Linked DNA regions of Homo sapiens. The protein of the gene in region 1 purifies or fractionates together with the protein of each later gene. This does not show direct contact. Each region holds a gene or a part of one and is shown on either strand. Other genes may lie near its edges.

Region 1 (3,621 bases):
GCCTCCATATAAATTCCTTACAGCAGGTATCAGCTGAATCTTGATATTTACATATGATACATATTGCAATTTCTGCAAATCCCCAACTCACAAAAATTTTTGTAGCCGTTCTTAAGCAGGCACAACCGAATCACCTGGAAAAACTTTTAAAATGTAGAGAGCTGAAACCCATCCCTGCAGATTCTGATTTGAAGGGCCAACAGATAGGGATCTGTACTTCAAAAGGCTTTACAAGTGACTCTGATGTATGTCCCCAGTAAAAAATGACTGCTCAGGCTGGGCCCAGTAACTCACACCTATAATTCCACAGCACTTTCCCAGAGGCCGAAGCAGGCAGATTGCTTGAGCTCAGGAGTTCGAGACCATCCTAGCCAACATGGTGAAACCCCGTCTGTACAAAAAATACAAAAATTAGCCGGGTATGGTGGCACACACCTGTAATCCCAGCTACTCTGGAGGCTGAGGCACAAGAATGGCTTGAACCCGACAGTCGAAGGTTGCAGTGAGCCGAGATTATGCCAGCCTGGGCGACAGAGTAAGACTCCATCTCAAAAAATAATAAAAATAAATAAATAAATTTTAAAAGATTTTAAAAAGATAAAAATGACTGCTCAACTGCCCAGGAAATGCAGTAAGGTAAAACTTCACAGAACTCAGTGTACCTAATGATGTGATTGAAAAACCAACCCCACAGCACATGTGATTCAAATTTACATCTCAGCAAAATTATAAACTATTAATTTGACTGCCCTTAAGAATCAGTCAAAACAGTTAAAACAAATATAAAATCTAAAAATACCAAGGGTCTACTGTATGGCAAATACTGAATTATACACATAAATGAACTGAAAACAGATGCAGCTTATTAAAACATCACTTAAAATATCTTTTTTTTTTTTTTTTTTTTTTTGAGAATGAGTCTCGCTCTATCGCCCAGGCTGAAGTGCAGTGGTGCAATCTTGGTTCATTGCAATGTCCGCCTCCCAGGTTCAAGCGATTCTCGCACCTCAGCCTCCTGAGCAGCTGGGATTACAGGTGCTCGCCACCATGCCCCACCAATTTTTTTTATGTATTTTTAGTAGAGACAAGTTTTCACCATGTTGGCCAGGCTGGTCTCGAACTCCTGACCTCAAGTGATCTGCTCGCGTCAGTCTCCCAAAGTGCTGGGATTATAGGCATGAGACACAGTGTCTGGCCTTGCTTTTTCATAGGGATTCTCAGCTGGGCATGGTGGCTCAAGCCTGTAATCCCAGTACTTTGGGAGGCCAAGGTGAGCGGATCATCTGAGGTCAGGAGATCAAGACCAGCTTGGCCAACATGGTGAAACCCTGTCTCTACTAAAAATACACAAAAAAATTAGTGGGGCGTAGTGGCGGGCACCTGTAATCCCAGCTCCCTCAGGAGGCTGAGGCAGGAGAATTGCTTGAACCCAGGAGGCAGAGGTTGCAGTGAGCTGAGATCACACCACTGCACTCCAGCCTGGGCAATGAAGCAAGACTCTATCTCAAAAAAAAAAAAAAAAAAAAAAGAAGGAAAAAAAGGGGAGTCTCGCTCCATCACCCAGGCTGGAGTGCGGTGGTGTGATCTCGGCTCACTGCAACCTCTGCCTCTCAGGTTCAAGTAATTCTCCTGCCTCAGCCTCCCGAGTAGCTGGGATTACAGGTGCCCGCCACCATGCCCCACTAATTTTTTTTGTGTATTTTTAGTAGAGACAGGGTTTCACCACATTGGCCAAGCTGGTCTCGATCTCCTGACCTCAGGTGATCCGCTCACCTCGGCCTCCCAAAGTGCTGGGATTATAGGCTTGAACCACCACGCCTGACCAAAACATAATTTAAATCAGATATGCTTTGCTCTAAGAATATAAGAAATTACAGAAATATACTTTGCATTAAATAAACTGCAATGAAAACTGATTTAGCAGGTGCGAGACAGTTCAACTTCTCCATTCAAGAACGTACTCAAAAAAAAAAAAAAGAAAAATGAAAATAAAAAATAAAAATAAAACAAACAAAAGAACATACTCAGGCCCAGGACAGTGGCTCATGCCTATAACCCCAGCACCTCAGGAGGCTGAGGCAGGTAGACTGCTTGTGTGCAGGAGTTCAAGACCAGCCTGGACAACATATTGAGACTCTGTCTCTACAAAAAAATAAAAAATTAGTCAGGCATGGTAGTGCATGCCTATAGTCCCAGCTACTTGGAAGGCTACGGTGGGAGGATCACTTGAACCCAGGAGGTCGAGGCTGCAGTGAGCCATGATCGTACCCGTGCCACTGCATTCAGCCTGGGTGACAGAGCGAGGGAGAATTACCATGAGGCAAAAGTACAATAATAACTGTTACAGACAAGACCCACAGATGGATGCGAAAATGAGCAGGCAAAAGTTTGAGGAAAAACAGGATTTGCATCTTCTTGAAGTATCTCCCCTAAAATATATATTAACTGTCCAAAAAAAGGTAACTTTAGAGAAACCCTACAGACACAACCATAACCAATTGATGGAGGACAATATCACCAATAAGACATACTGACAATATGAATCCCATGGTAGGAGGCACTGAGAAAGACAGTATCATTTCTGTGGTATTCTTGCCAAAAATACCTAATAAGTCTAACCAAGAGAAAACATCACACAAACCCAAATTGAGGAACATTATACAAAATAACTGATCATTACTCTTTGAGAGTGACAAGGTCACAAAAGATAAGACAGAGACTACTGCAGATGGCAAACAAATAGACAGAAATAGCTAAATGCATCATGGGATGATCCTAGATAAAAATTTTAGAAGAGAAAAAGGACACTGGTGGAAAAAACAGGTAAAAATTAAAATAAGATCTATAGTTTAGTGAATACTGTTGCAGAAATGTTCATCTATCTCTGATAATTTTTCTATGGTTATGTAAGATGTTAACAACAGGAGAAGCAGGCAAGTGATACGAGAACTCTTTGTACTATGTTTGCAACTTTTTTTTTTTTTTTCCGGGACAGGGTCTCATTCTGTCGCCCAGGCTGGAGTGCAGTAACACGATCTCGGCTCACTGCAACATCTGCCTCCCAGGTTCAAGCAATTCTCCTGCCTCAACCTCCCTAGGAGCTGGTATTAAAGATGCCTGGCTAATTTTTTATTTTTAGTAGAGACAGGGTTTCAACATGTTGGCCAAGCTCAAAAAGTTTATACAAAATGAGAGAAAAAAAGACCACGAGAGAGAATTAAAAGCTCACCAACATGAATGCAAAATTATGCAGAATGAAAGAAGCCTATGGAAAAGAAAGTGCATTTATATTTATATGTGGTTTTTGTTTATGTAAAGTTCTTAACATGTAAACTAATCTACAGTAACAAAAAGCAGGTAAGTGGCCAAGCGCAGTGGCTCACACCTGTAATCCCAACATTTTGGGAGGTCGAGGCAGGCAGATCATGAGGTCAGGAGTTCAAGACCAGCCTGGCCAACATAGTGAAACTCCGTCTCTACTAAAAATACAAAAATTAGTCGGGCATGGTGGCACATACCTATAGTCCCAGCTACTCAGGAGGCTGAGGCAGGAGAATCACTTGAAGCCGGGAGGAGGTTGGAGTGAGCCGAGATTGTGCCACTGCACTCCATCTTGGGCAA
Region 2 (3,621 bases), on another chromosome or scaffold:
CTCCCACATCTATATCAAGATCATCCAGGAAAAATACATCTGGGGAACTCAGCAACGCTCACTATATTTCAGACTGACACACTCTGATTTTCTTTACATTTCAAAGAGGCCAGGCATGGTGGCTCATGCCTGTAATCCCAGCTACTCTGGAGGCTGAGGCAGGAAAATTGCTTGAACCCAGGAGGCGGAGGTTGAAGTGAGCTGAGATTGCGCCACTGCACTCCAGCCTGGCAACACAACGAAACTCCATCTCAGAAAAAACAAAAAGAAAGAAAGAAAGAGAGAAAGAGAGAAGGAGAGAAGGAGAGAAGAAGGAGAGAAAGAAAGAAAGAAAGAAAGAAAGAAAGAAAGAAAGAAAGAAAGAAAGAAAGAAGGAAGGAAAGAAAGAAAGACAATCATCTATCCACCCTCCTCTTAAACTTTCTAAAGTAGGGGGATGCATACCCTGGATAATATCTTTCCTCCTCCTGGCATGAGGCAACCAATAAAAGTTTTGTCTGTCAGTGCAGATTTCAGCACGAAATGGAACAAGCAGAGATAGAGGGAGACAGTAAGAATTCCACAGCTGACCCTACCCCTTACCACCTTTATCTTTGACCATACTCTGTGTTGGGGCCCTGTGGCCTATAGAAGCAGATGAGGGACAGAGTGATGATCTAGGCTTCTTTATCATAAGCAGAAGACACCAGATCCTACTCTTTAGGAAACTAGCTGATAGCCAAGGACATCTGAGATCCATACTCAGGAATCACAGATCACATGAGGTTATTGCTGTTGATGGTATCCAGAGTCTAATATTTGGGGATAAGCAACTATCACCAAATATCCTACAGCCAGAATAAGCAGTTTGTAAAAAAGAAAGGCAAGAGTTTTCTACGGTGGCGGTTCACCTGCTGATCCAGAGGCTCTGTCGTTTTTTTCTGCCCCTCCAGAGAGCTGTCAGCCAGCACTTTTTGTTTGTTGCTTTTCAGACAAGGGTCAGGTTCTTTGCTTTCATTCTGGGAAAATTCGTTGAAGTGTAGTACCTGCATGATAACGGGATGGGGTCTTTCAGATAATATGAACAGAGGGAAGCCTGAATAACTTCAGAAACATTTCATAATGAGACAATGGCAATGATTACATAGTCAAACAAAACAATCAACAACAGTTTAAAGGAAAGTGGGTGCTTCTGTACTTGGGTTGGGAGGTGGAATCGAGGAGAAGAACCAACCGCTACCCTGGGAGAGCATTTATGAATAAATATAACCAAACTAAAAGAACATAGAGGTATCCACAAGCTAAATGTAACTATGGAGCATTTCATAGATACCCAATCTGAATTGACTGTAAGTGCAAAATACACACCAGATCTTGAATATAGTATAAAAAAATAAATAAATAAAATAGCTCATTAAAATTCTTATATTGATGATATGTGGATATGATATTTTGCATATACTAGGTTAAAAAATTATTATTAAAATTAGTCCCACCTGTTTCTTTTTACTTTTGCAATACAGTTACTAAAAAATTTTAAATTACTATGTGGTTCTCATTATGTTTGTGTCAGACAGTGCTGATCTAGAGTTTCACATGAATCAAGGGAGTGAGGACAGCAAAAGACAAGTTATCCAGAGCCTGGTAGAAAGGTAGGAGACAGGCGTCATATCCTGCACTACTCAGACCCATTTGGTCAGCAGGTGCCCTCAACTGCCTAAGAAAGAACATCTGAATTCTGCCCTGCAAGATGCAAACCACACTCTAAAGCTAAGTTTTGCTAATGGAATAAGAAAATAATACACCAAATCTTAGTAGATGAATAAAGCAGAATGACCCCAGAAACACATTCTGTCTTAATCCATAAATTCTACTGCTCCATATTCAGGGGAAACAGCCTGAGTTGTGCATAACCCCCGCACTATGTGCTACATCCAAGGAAGTATAAGGCCAACCATGGGAACTTGTAGTTTATTTGGGGATTTGTTCTTATTACCTTCATTTATTTATTCTAGAAATGTTTATTAGGTGCCTACAAAAGTATCCCTTATGGTCTGGAGGTCAGGATGCAGCACTAGATTAGGAGGTCAAAGTAGGCCCCGTATAGGAGATAAACACTGATCAAAGTCTTGAAGAAGAAAGTGAGCTGAGGTCAGTTACCAGGGGAAAGAGCCATCAGGCAAAGGGACCGAGAGCAAAGGCCCCAAGATAGGATGGGCATGACTTACCCAAGGAAGCCAGGAGGCCAATGTGACAGGTACAGTGAGGAGGGATGAAAGTGAGAGATGGAGTCACAGGGCTTATCTGGGATTCAGATCTCCAGATCCTTGTGGGCCATTGTAAGGACTTGAACTGCTATCATGAGTGAAATAAGAAATCCAGGTTTTTGAACAGATGAGAAATAGAATCTGGCTCAGGTTTTAAAAGGGTCTCTTGGACTGCTGTGCAAAGGATAGATTGCCAGTGAGAGCAGGAAAGCCCATCAGGAAGTTGCTGCAGTATCCAGGTGAGAAAAGATGGTTGTGGTTCAGACCTCAAGGAGACTGGGAGAAGTGCCTGGATTATGGATATCTTTCAAAAGAAAAGCCAACAGAATTTTCTAACAAATGTGGTATAAAGTGAGAGAGAAAGAGTCCAGGAGGACACCAAGCTCTCTAGCCACTGGAACCATATATGGTACTTAATGAATATTTATTTAATGAAATGAGTGAGACAGAAGACATATACACATACTAAAAATCGCTAGCAATATTGGTATTAGCAATCATAGAGTAAAAGAGTGACAGACATGCATACAGAGATAAAGATAGAGATGAATGAGAAAAGCTGCCAGACATGAAGTTGAGGAGCACCCTAAAGAAGGTACAAGTTTAAGTGAGACTTTAAGAATGGTAGGATCGAAGAGGAAGTAAGATGGAGAAAATACAAATAAAGACTCAGAGACAGGGATGGGTTCTGACCAAGCCCAGGGTGCAATAAGCCCCTTGGCTTGCCTAAGTGGGATTAGGGTCTGACTTTGAGTGTGGACCCAGAGTTTAGGACCCTGTGTAGCACCCTAGTGGACACGTACCTCATCAATCTGATGTGCACTGTCACTTCTAGCACCCAAGCGTACCATACCAAGGGCAGCTGAGAGGCTCAGGGGAGAGAAAAATATGTTTTTATGACGATCATCTTTGCCTATCTCTTGAAAAAGATCAAAGCAAAATTTGGTGTTTGCTGTAACAAGAGAGTCCATTGTAAAACTTATAACGATCTAAAACCAAAAAAAAAGGAGAAAGAGAAAATGGTGATTGGAAGAAAATAAGTGAACAAACAATTTTATTTTACATACCTGAAATACAATCATGCACAATTATTCAGTATGCTATTAAGAACTGGAAAACTAAGGTCATTATCATCCCTGTATATAAATATTGGTGTTGATATTGATAGACAGAGATCTATTTTCATTTAGTAGTGTGAATTCGTTTCCTGGGGCTGCCATAAGAAATTACCACAGACTGAGTGGTTTAAATAGCAGGAGTTTATTCTCCCATGGTTCTGGGGGACAAACGTCCAAAATCAAGATATCAGCAGATTTGGTTCATTTCAAGACTCTCAAGGAAAATCTGTTTCATGCCTCTCTCTCAGCTTGTGGTG
Region 3 (4,095 bases), on another chromosome or scaffold:
GCTCGATATCATAAAATATTTTGAGAAAGTACTTTATGTTTGTATCAGATTGTTTTACCACTTGAAAAAGAAGTGATACCTGTGAATATTCCATCTCAATGAACAAACCTTGGAAACAAATTGTCCATAAAGTCAAGATTTATTGTCACATAATAATGTAATACTTAATGTAAGTTTTAGAATTGTTCCCATATTCAAAGAATTCGTAACTTCCACGACCCAACTATGTTTGTCAAAGTTTACAACCACAACCATAACAAACCAAAACTACATCCTAGCCAGGAATATTCTTATCTGCCAAGGTCTTTACCAAGAGAACTAAGATTTAAATTTTACCTCCTTTCCCTTCCCCTTCCCTTCTTTGGAAATACCAAATATCAGCAAACCAACTAAATGGGAGATAAAGAGCTGAGAAGCAAAGGATAAAAAAACAGTTAATCAAGATAAACTTATCAATTTTTGATTGCTGCGGATGAATTCAATTAGTAACCAAATAGTCAGTTTCTGTTTAAGATTCCGTCCATCAACTCTTGGGATCCAAGCAGATAAACAGACTAAATTCTGAAGTCAAATCCATTGGATCCGTTACTGCCTGAGTGACCTCATGCCAGTTCTTTAAACTCAATACCCCTGTTACCTGTAAAATGGTATCTCCTTCACTAAGTTACTGTGAAAATTAAGTGAGATTATGCAAACAAAAAGTTATCAGTAAATCACAATGCAAATTCTGCTGTTGATGCTACTAAAAGTAGCAACAGTAATATAATTTCGTTCATCCCTTCCTACTATCCCTAGCAGGAAAAAGACAAGGGAAAACCAGAAGAAGGAGAGATGTGACTAACCACGGCAAACTCTCTGGAAGTATATTTAAAAACTGTTGAAGAGATGAAACTGGAAAGGCTTTTACTTCTCATTTTATTTAAATTTTCATCTCACTTTATTAAAATTTTCAAAAGAGGTGGAATTACACATAATTTTCATTGTTCATGTTTATCAGTATTTTTCCCATAAAACATTTAAATTAAACATAATTTTTGTTTCTCAGATTCCTTCAATTGAAACTGTATATATACATAAGGTACACTGAACAGAAAATACAAAGGAAAATCATACTTTTCTGTTTTCCAGTTTAGTACAATGTGAATATACGACCTTTAAAAAAAGTTTTTAAAATTACTAAATATAGTGAGCAAGCATGCATGACTTATACTTCAGAGACATCTGAAAGGCCCAATCCACAAGGTCCAGCACCTACTATAATTTGAAGTGCAACTCTTACTCTGGTCAATTTTATTCTAGTAAAAGAGCTAATACACAAAAAAAGCAAAACTCCCCTAAGAGATTGTCAAGTGATCTGAAAAAAGAAGAACCCTGCTCAGGGACTATTAATGGTCCACACACCTCTCAGGATACTTTTCTACTTCGGGATATCTTTCAGTTTTTTCCTCTATAATATAAGCATAAATATATTTTAAGGTGTAAAACAGAGAAATCCTTTTGCATCTTTGGAAAAAGTCCTTCCCCTGACTGCTAATTATCTCTGAGGAAAACAGAAGCAATTATAGGTCTAGTGACAGGATCTAAAGGCAAAATGGGAAATCAAATGGACAAAATAAATGAAGTTTACGTGCTTTCACTTAAAATTGGCATTTTAATCAAAACCGATTTAAAAAGTCTAAAAATAAGCCTAACTCCAGAAAGCTGGGAAAGGGGAAGAGAGAAGGAAATATTTACCTGAGGCATCTCCAACTTTAAAATCACTGTCATCTGAACTATCATAATCAAGAGCTTCCAGCAGAGAAGCTGCCAAAGGCTTCACCTGCCTCCTCTTGGAGCTGCGATCCACTGTGAAGAGAAAAAAATTACATTGTCATTCATAATCACACCAAACACAGGGGAGAGTTGTGGTGCTAAGAGAACATAAAGATGACCTCGCACAAGGAATTTTTGTCTAACTGAGTTCTCAGCAAAAGGGGTCAGGAGAAGGTTGGGGTGCAGAAGCAGGGTGGGGAGGGCTGGACAGCTCCACGGGCAGTTTCAAAGGCAGCTCCAGCCCTGATGCTGCCAACGCCAACTCAGACCAGCTAAAATCGAAGCTGACCCTCTTGCTCATCTTTTCGAGATGTTTCTGCACCTTCCTCGTAATCCCCCACTTAGACATCGTAACAGTCAATAAAAACGGCAAAAATCAGGGAATAAAACAAGCGGGCTTCATTCCCGCGGACCATGGAGGGCGAGGGTCCACCAATCCTGCTTTCCCGCAGGACTCTCCCACCCCTGCCCTGCTCCCACCGGCCCTGACTTCTAGAATGGCTGAAATGGACCTCTCGCCGCAGAGGCCTCGGATACACTTACTAAGGAATCCGTGAGGTGGTCGTTTGGAGAAGACTTAGGGAGAGGCTGCAGGAGCCCAGGCAGCGCCGAGGTCGGGGACTGGGGCCGCGAAGACAAGTCCGAAAGATGCTATTTAAAACCGGCGCGCAGCCAGCCGGACAGGGGCGCTCCCAAGAGTAGCCCCGCGGTCCCCTAACCCCCCGCCCCCCCGGCCTCGCCTGGCCCTGGCCGCTCGAGCCCCTTCCCACAGCGCTCCCTGGCCGGAGAAGACCTCCGGCCCAGGCAGCGCAGTCAACCCGGCGGCCCCGGGGAGTTAATTTCTCCCGTTAAAACTAGAAGAAAAAAAATTAAAGAAAGAAAAACTTTATTAGCCTGGACCAGAAGCAACGAAAGACCAGAAATTGCACAGCGCGAGGGCGGCTGCCTCAGACAATAGGGAAAGCAGCGACCCGGATACAGCTCTGAAAAGGAAGTGAAAACACGAGGCTGAGCGCAGCCCTGAGAGCAGCAGGAATTGAGGGCGCATGCGCAGGACTCGCCCCCGCGCACCCTTCCCGAGCAGGAGCCGAACAGAGCCGAGTGAAAGCCCAGGGAGCCGCGCGGAGGCGAGCGGAGCCGAGTAGTGCCAAGGCGGAGCAGAGATCCCCGCCAAACCCTGTGCAATTCCGCCCATAAACCCCAAAGGCTCCGCCCTCTCCGCGCCTAATTCACCTCCTGAGTCCAAATCCCTGGGAGGCCAGTTTTTGTTTCTGATCTGTTTTTTAAGGATTTACTGAGTAAACGTTCCACAAAGGGATGTTTGCTACCTTAAGCCACTACCAATATTTAAATGATATTGTCACCGGTAGAGGATCGTGACTGCAAGTTGTCCAGGTTCTTGGCGTTTTTAACAAAGAATTGGACAAAACGCCCAGCAAAGCAAAGAAAGAATGAAGCAACAAAACAACAAAAGCAGGGACTTATTGAAAATTAAAGCACGCTCTGTACGGAAGCGACCTGAGCAGCGGCTCAAGGGCCCGGATACAGAATCTTGAGTCCAAATACCCTCTAGAAGCTTCCTATTGGCCACCTAATGCTCACCTCATGTAAATGAAGTAACGCGCAATCAGTCTGATTGGTTGCAGAAAGCAGCCAACCAGAGGCTGAAGTGAAGTTACAAAGGTCATGCTCCTGTGCAAACATTGGTGCAAAAAGCAATCAATCAGAGGCTAGGGTGAAGTTACAAAGTGGTATACCTCTATGCAAAGGAAGATTTCCCCTGCAATCAGTTTGATTTCTTGCAGATGGTGAAGTTACAAAGTGATACTTCTATGCAAAGGAAGACTCTCCTGCAATCAGTCTGATTTGCTGCCCACAGCCAATTTCCCATCTGCCCTGCAGAAAAAGTGGGGGTTTGCAAAGGGAGTAGCCTCTGGTCCTTTTGTTACTTAGGCATGGAAAGTTAGGGGTTTCCTTTCAATTTAGTTCTTAGGAAGTCGGAGTGACACATCCTTAGGTTCCCTGCCTCCACACCCTATTCTCCTGCCTCACTCTCACCCAAACTATCATTGCCATGTGACCTCTCAAACTTTTCTATTGTGCTATAGAAACTTCTATTCCAAAATGTATAACCTACTTAGTAAACATTTTTCCTTTTCAATGCCCATTCTTTTTACCTCCTCATCTGAAATAGAAACAGTTACCCTGCAGCCCTCTCAAATGAAAACCACTCATCCTTCCATACTTCATTTTCTCAAGGTGCAGAAGTGGCATCCCATGCTT
Region 4 (3,621 bases), on another chromosome or scaffold:
ACTTCCATTAGCCTTGGACACTAATTGACAAGTCTGTGGGTCACTGAGTTATTCATCCACAAGGCCATTTCAAACCTCTCTTCAAACTCATATTCACCCTTTCTGCAGACAATCTCATTTATTCTCTACCAAAAGGTGAAGGCATAGCAAAATGGCCTCTTTTATTTTGAAGCTCTACCATTTACATTGTTCCTTCTAGACTACCTTCAAACATGCACAAGTAAAAAAAGAACCTTTATTTGCCCTTGTTGCTTCTGTCAGCTGCTATCTTAAGAGTCAGCTTTGGCTCATTTCTCCCCTTCAATCCCTTAGAACCAGTAAAGTCCCAATAATGCTAACCTTGAAAAATTTTTTTGATTCCCATCATCACATTCATAGTGCAGGTTCTTTTTCTTTCTTTCTTACTTTTGAGGCAGAGTCTCACTCTGTCGCCCAGGCTGGAGTGCAGTGGTGTGATTTCTGCTTACTGCAACCTCCGCCTCCTAGGTTGAAGTGATTCTCCTGCCTCAGCCTCCCAAGTAGCTGGGATTACAGATGCCTGCCACCATGCCCAGCTAATTTTTGTATTTTTAGCAGAGATGGGGTTTCATCATGTTGGCCAGGCTAGTCTCAAACTCCTGACCTCAGGGGATCTGTCTGCCTTGGCCTCCCAAAGTGCTCGGATTATAGGCATGAGCCACCACGCTCATAGTGCAGATTCTTAAATAAATAAGATTCTTGTAACTAGTTACATCTATCTGATGCACCTTATCCACAAACGTCAGATTAGTAGTACAATGTTGAACCTTCTGTTAATCAAAGATTTGCAGTAATGGAAACTAGTCAACAAGGTATTAAAAACCTGATCATTGGTTCTGCTTTTCCTAACTGATTTTGTTTCCCACTCCATTTCCCCATAACATTTTTTTTTTGTCTGTTTTTTTTGAGACAAAGTCTCGCTCTGTTGCCCAGGTTGGAGTGCACCGACATGATCATAGCTCACTGCAGCTGTGACCTCCCAGGCTCAGGTAATCCTCTAACCTCAGCCTCCTGAGAAGTTGGGACTACAGGTACACGACACCATGCCAGTTAATTTTTGTATTTTCGGTAGAGATTTTGTTTATGTTGCCCAGGCTGAACCATACTTTATACTTCTACTTCTATTTTATAGTTTGTGGTATTCTTCTGACCTTCATTTTAACTCTGTCCTTCCTTTCAGGCTGGTTCAAACTACACTGAGCCTTCCCTGGTCACTAAAACTTGTGGCCCTTCCTATCCTACACCTCATTTACTATGGGCTCTCCATCTTTTGGTCCTTAAGGTTCTTCTCAGGTTCTTCTCAGCATGTCCTTTGTGGTGCAACAGCATTAGGCATTTCTCCAAAAGAACCTAGGCATAGTGCTATATATAGTAGGTACTAATACTTGTTGAATTGAATTGAATTTCTGGGCCTGTTTTCTTATCTGTAAAATAAAAGGTATAGACTAGACAGAACAAAGATCTCTTTTGGTTCTAACTGTTATTACCCTATGAAAATACTCAAGGAATAATCAAAACAATTATTTTTTTCTAATATGATTTTGCAAAAGCTATGCTTGTGATAGATACCACAAATCAAACACTAAGTATGGTAAAAACCATAAACATCTAATCCAACTTAAATCAACAACAGCACCTTACTACATAAACAAAATGCAGACTGGGCATGGTGGCTCATGCCTATAATCCTTTGGGAGGCCAATGCGGACGGATCACTTGAGGTAAGGAGTTTGAGACCAGCCTGGCCAACACAGCGAAACCCTGTCTCTAGTAAAAATACAAAAATCAGCCGGGCATGGTGGCACACACCTGTAATCCCACCCGCACTCCAGCCTGGGTGACAGAGAGAGACTCCATCTCAAAAACAAAAACAAAAACAGGCTGGGCGTGGTGGTTCACACCTATAATCCCAGCACTTTGAGAAGCCTACATGGGCAGATCATGAGGTCAAGAATTCAAGACCAGCCTGACCAACATGGTGAAACCCTGTCTCTACCAAAAATACAAAAATTAGCCAGGTGTGGTGTTGTGCGCCTATAATCCCAGTTACTCAGGAGGCTGAGGCAGGAGAATCACTTGAACCCGGGAGGCGGAGGTTGTAGTGAGCCAAGATCGTGCCACTGCACTCCAGCCTGGGCAACAGAGCAAGACTCTGTCTCAAAACAAAAAACCAAAAAACCGAACACATAAAACAACAACAACAAAACAGTGGGAAACATAAAGAGAAATCAGATACTCCCTGCACTTGGTGACTTATATATTAGGTGAAGAAACAGGTCAAAGCAGAATTAAATGCTACATATAGGTAGGAGTGATGTGTTCCTCTATTACCTGTTTTTCCAAAGCAGCCTTTCCTACTTCTTTTGTGCATGATGTGAGTGTTTCATTCAAGCACTGTAAGCTAAAGAAAAAAAAAGAAGAAATGAAACTTTATCCTAAGCTCAAGTGAAGACTTCAATAGCAGTTCCATAGGTATACCTTGCCAGTTCAAGCCGATCACAAAGTTTTTCCACTTCTTCCATCATTTTAACCCGCTCTGCCTCATTATCAGAAAAATGATTCCAGGTCTAAAAGCACAAACACAAAAATAGTATCTACACTCAAAAATACATCCATCAACATAATTACAAAGCTGTAATCCCAGCTACTCGGGAGGCTGAGGCAGGAGAATCGCTTGAACCTGGAGGCGGAAATTGCAGCAAACTGAGATCACGCCACTGCACTCCAGCCTGGACAACAGAGCAAGACTCCATCTCAAAAAAACAGACAATGACAACTGAACAGGTATAATTTTATCTCAGTGTAAATGTTTTTAACTTTTTCTTTTCTTTGAGACGGAGTCTCACTGTCGCCCAGGCTGGAGTCCAGTGGCACGAAATCGGCTCACTGCAACCTCCACCTCCCGGGTTCAAGCTATTCTTCTGCCTCAGTCTCCTGAGTAGCTGGAATTACAGGCGCCTGCCACCACACCTGGCTAATTTTTTCTATATTTAGTAGAGACGGGGTTTCACCATTTTGGCCAGGCTGGTCTTGAACTCCTGACCTTGTGATCCACCCGCCTCAGCCTCCCAAAGTGCTGGTTACAGGTGTGAGCCACCGCGCCCGGCTGTTTTTAACTTTTTCTAAATTTCAGGTGTACATATTTCAGTTTTCAACCCTGATAGTTTTTTTCTAAACATAATCATCTTACCATTATCAAACCAAAAAACAAGTTAATATTCTAAAACTGTCCCAGCACTTTGGGAGGCCGAGGCAGGCGGATCGTGAGGTCAGGAGATCGAGACCATCCTGGCTAACACAGTGAAACCCCGTCTCTACTAAAAATCCAAAAAATTAGCCGGGCGTGGTCCCAGCTACTCGGGAGGCTGAGGCAGGAGCATGGCGTGAACCCAGGAGGCGGAGCTTGCAGTGAGCGGAGATTGCGCCACTGTACTCCAGCCTGGGCGACAGAGCAAGACTCTGTCACAAAATATATATATATACACATATATATATATATATATATATTCTGAAACTGTGTCTATATTCATATCTTCAGTTATCTCAGCATGTCTTTTTTTTTTTTTTTTTTTTGAGATGGAGACTCTGTCTTGTTTAGTTACA

The links. The genes of interacting proteins can lie anywhere in the genome.
Region 2: the proteins of DRG1 (region 1) and SERPINB12 purify together in Homo sapiens (affinity purification with mass spectrometry; one large-scale study listed by BioGRID and IntAct). This does not show direct contact.
Region 3: the proteins of DRG1 (region 1) and PHF14 purify together in Homo sapiens (affinity purification with mass spectrometry; one large-scale study listed by BioGRID and IntAct). This does not show direct contact.
Region 4: the proteins of DRG1 (region 1) and DNAJC2 purify together in Homo sapiens (affinity purification with mass spectrometry; 2 studies listed by BioGRID and IntAct, with this or other methods). This does not show direct contact.

Annotation. Positions count from the first base shown.
Region 1 is NC_000022.11:31,406,042-31,409,662, reverse strand, and holds part of DRG1 (developmentally-regulated GTP-binding protein 1), read right to left. Parts: intron 1-3,621. UniProt on the Homo sapiens protein: Catalyzes the conversion of GTP to GDP through hydrolysis of the gamma-phosphate bond in GTP. Appears to have an intrinsic GTPase activity that is stimulated by ZC3H15/DFRP1 binding likely by increasing the affinity for the potassium ions.
Region 2 is NC_000018.10:63,555,756-63,559,376, reverse strand, and holds part of SERPINB12 (serpin B12), read right to left. Parts: intron 3,236-3,621; coding exon of another isoform or gene 3,218-3,235; coding exon 3,050-3,217; intron 1,026-3,049; coding exon 891-1,025; intron 1-890. UniProt on the Homo sapiens protein: Inhibits trypsin and plasmin, but not thrombin, coagulation factor Xa, or urokinase-type plasminogen activator. May play a role in cell differentiation.
Region 3 is NC_000007.14:10,972,585-10,976,679, reverse strand, and holds the start of PHF14 (PHD finger protein 14), read right to left. Parts: upstream 2,809-4,095; 5' UTR 2,357-2,808; coding exon 2,356-2,356; intron 1,846-2,355; coding exon 1,735-1,845; intron 1-1,734. UniProt on the Homo sapiens protein: Histone-binding protein. Binds preferentially to unmodified histone H3 but can also bind to a lesser extent to histone H3 trimethylated at 'Lys-9' (H3K9me3) as well as to histone H3 monomethylated at 'Lys-27' (H3K27ac) and trimethylated at 'Lys-27' (H3K27me3).
Region 4 is NC_000007.14:103,317,260-103,320,880, forward strand, and holds part of DNAJC2 (dnaJ homolog subfamily C member 2), read right to left. Parts: intron 2,586-3,621; coding exon 2,497-2,585; intron 2,420-2,496; coding exon 2,350-2,419; intron 1-2,349. UniProt on the Homo sapiens protein: Acts both as a chaperone in the cytosol and as a chromatin regulator in the nucleus.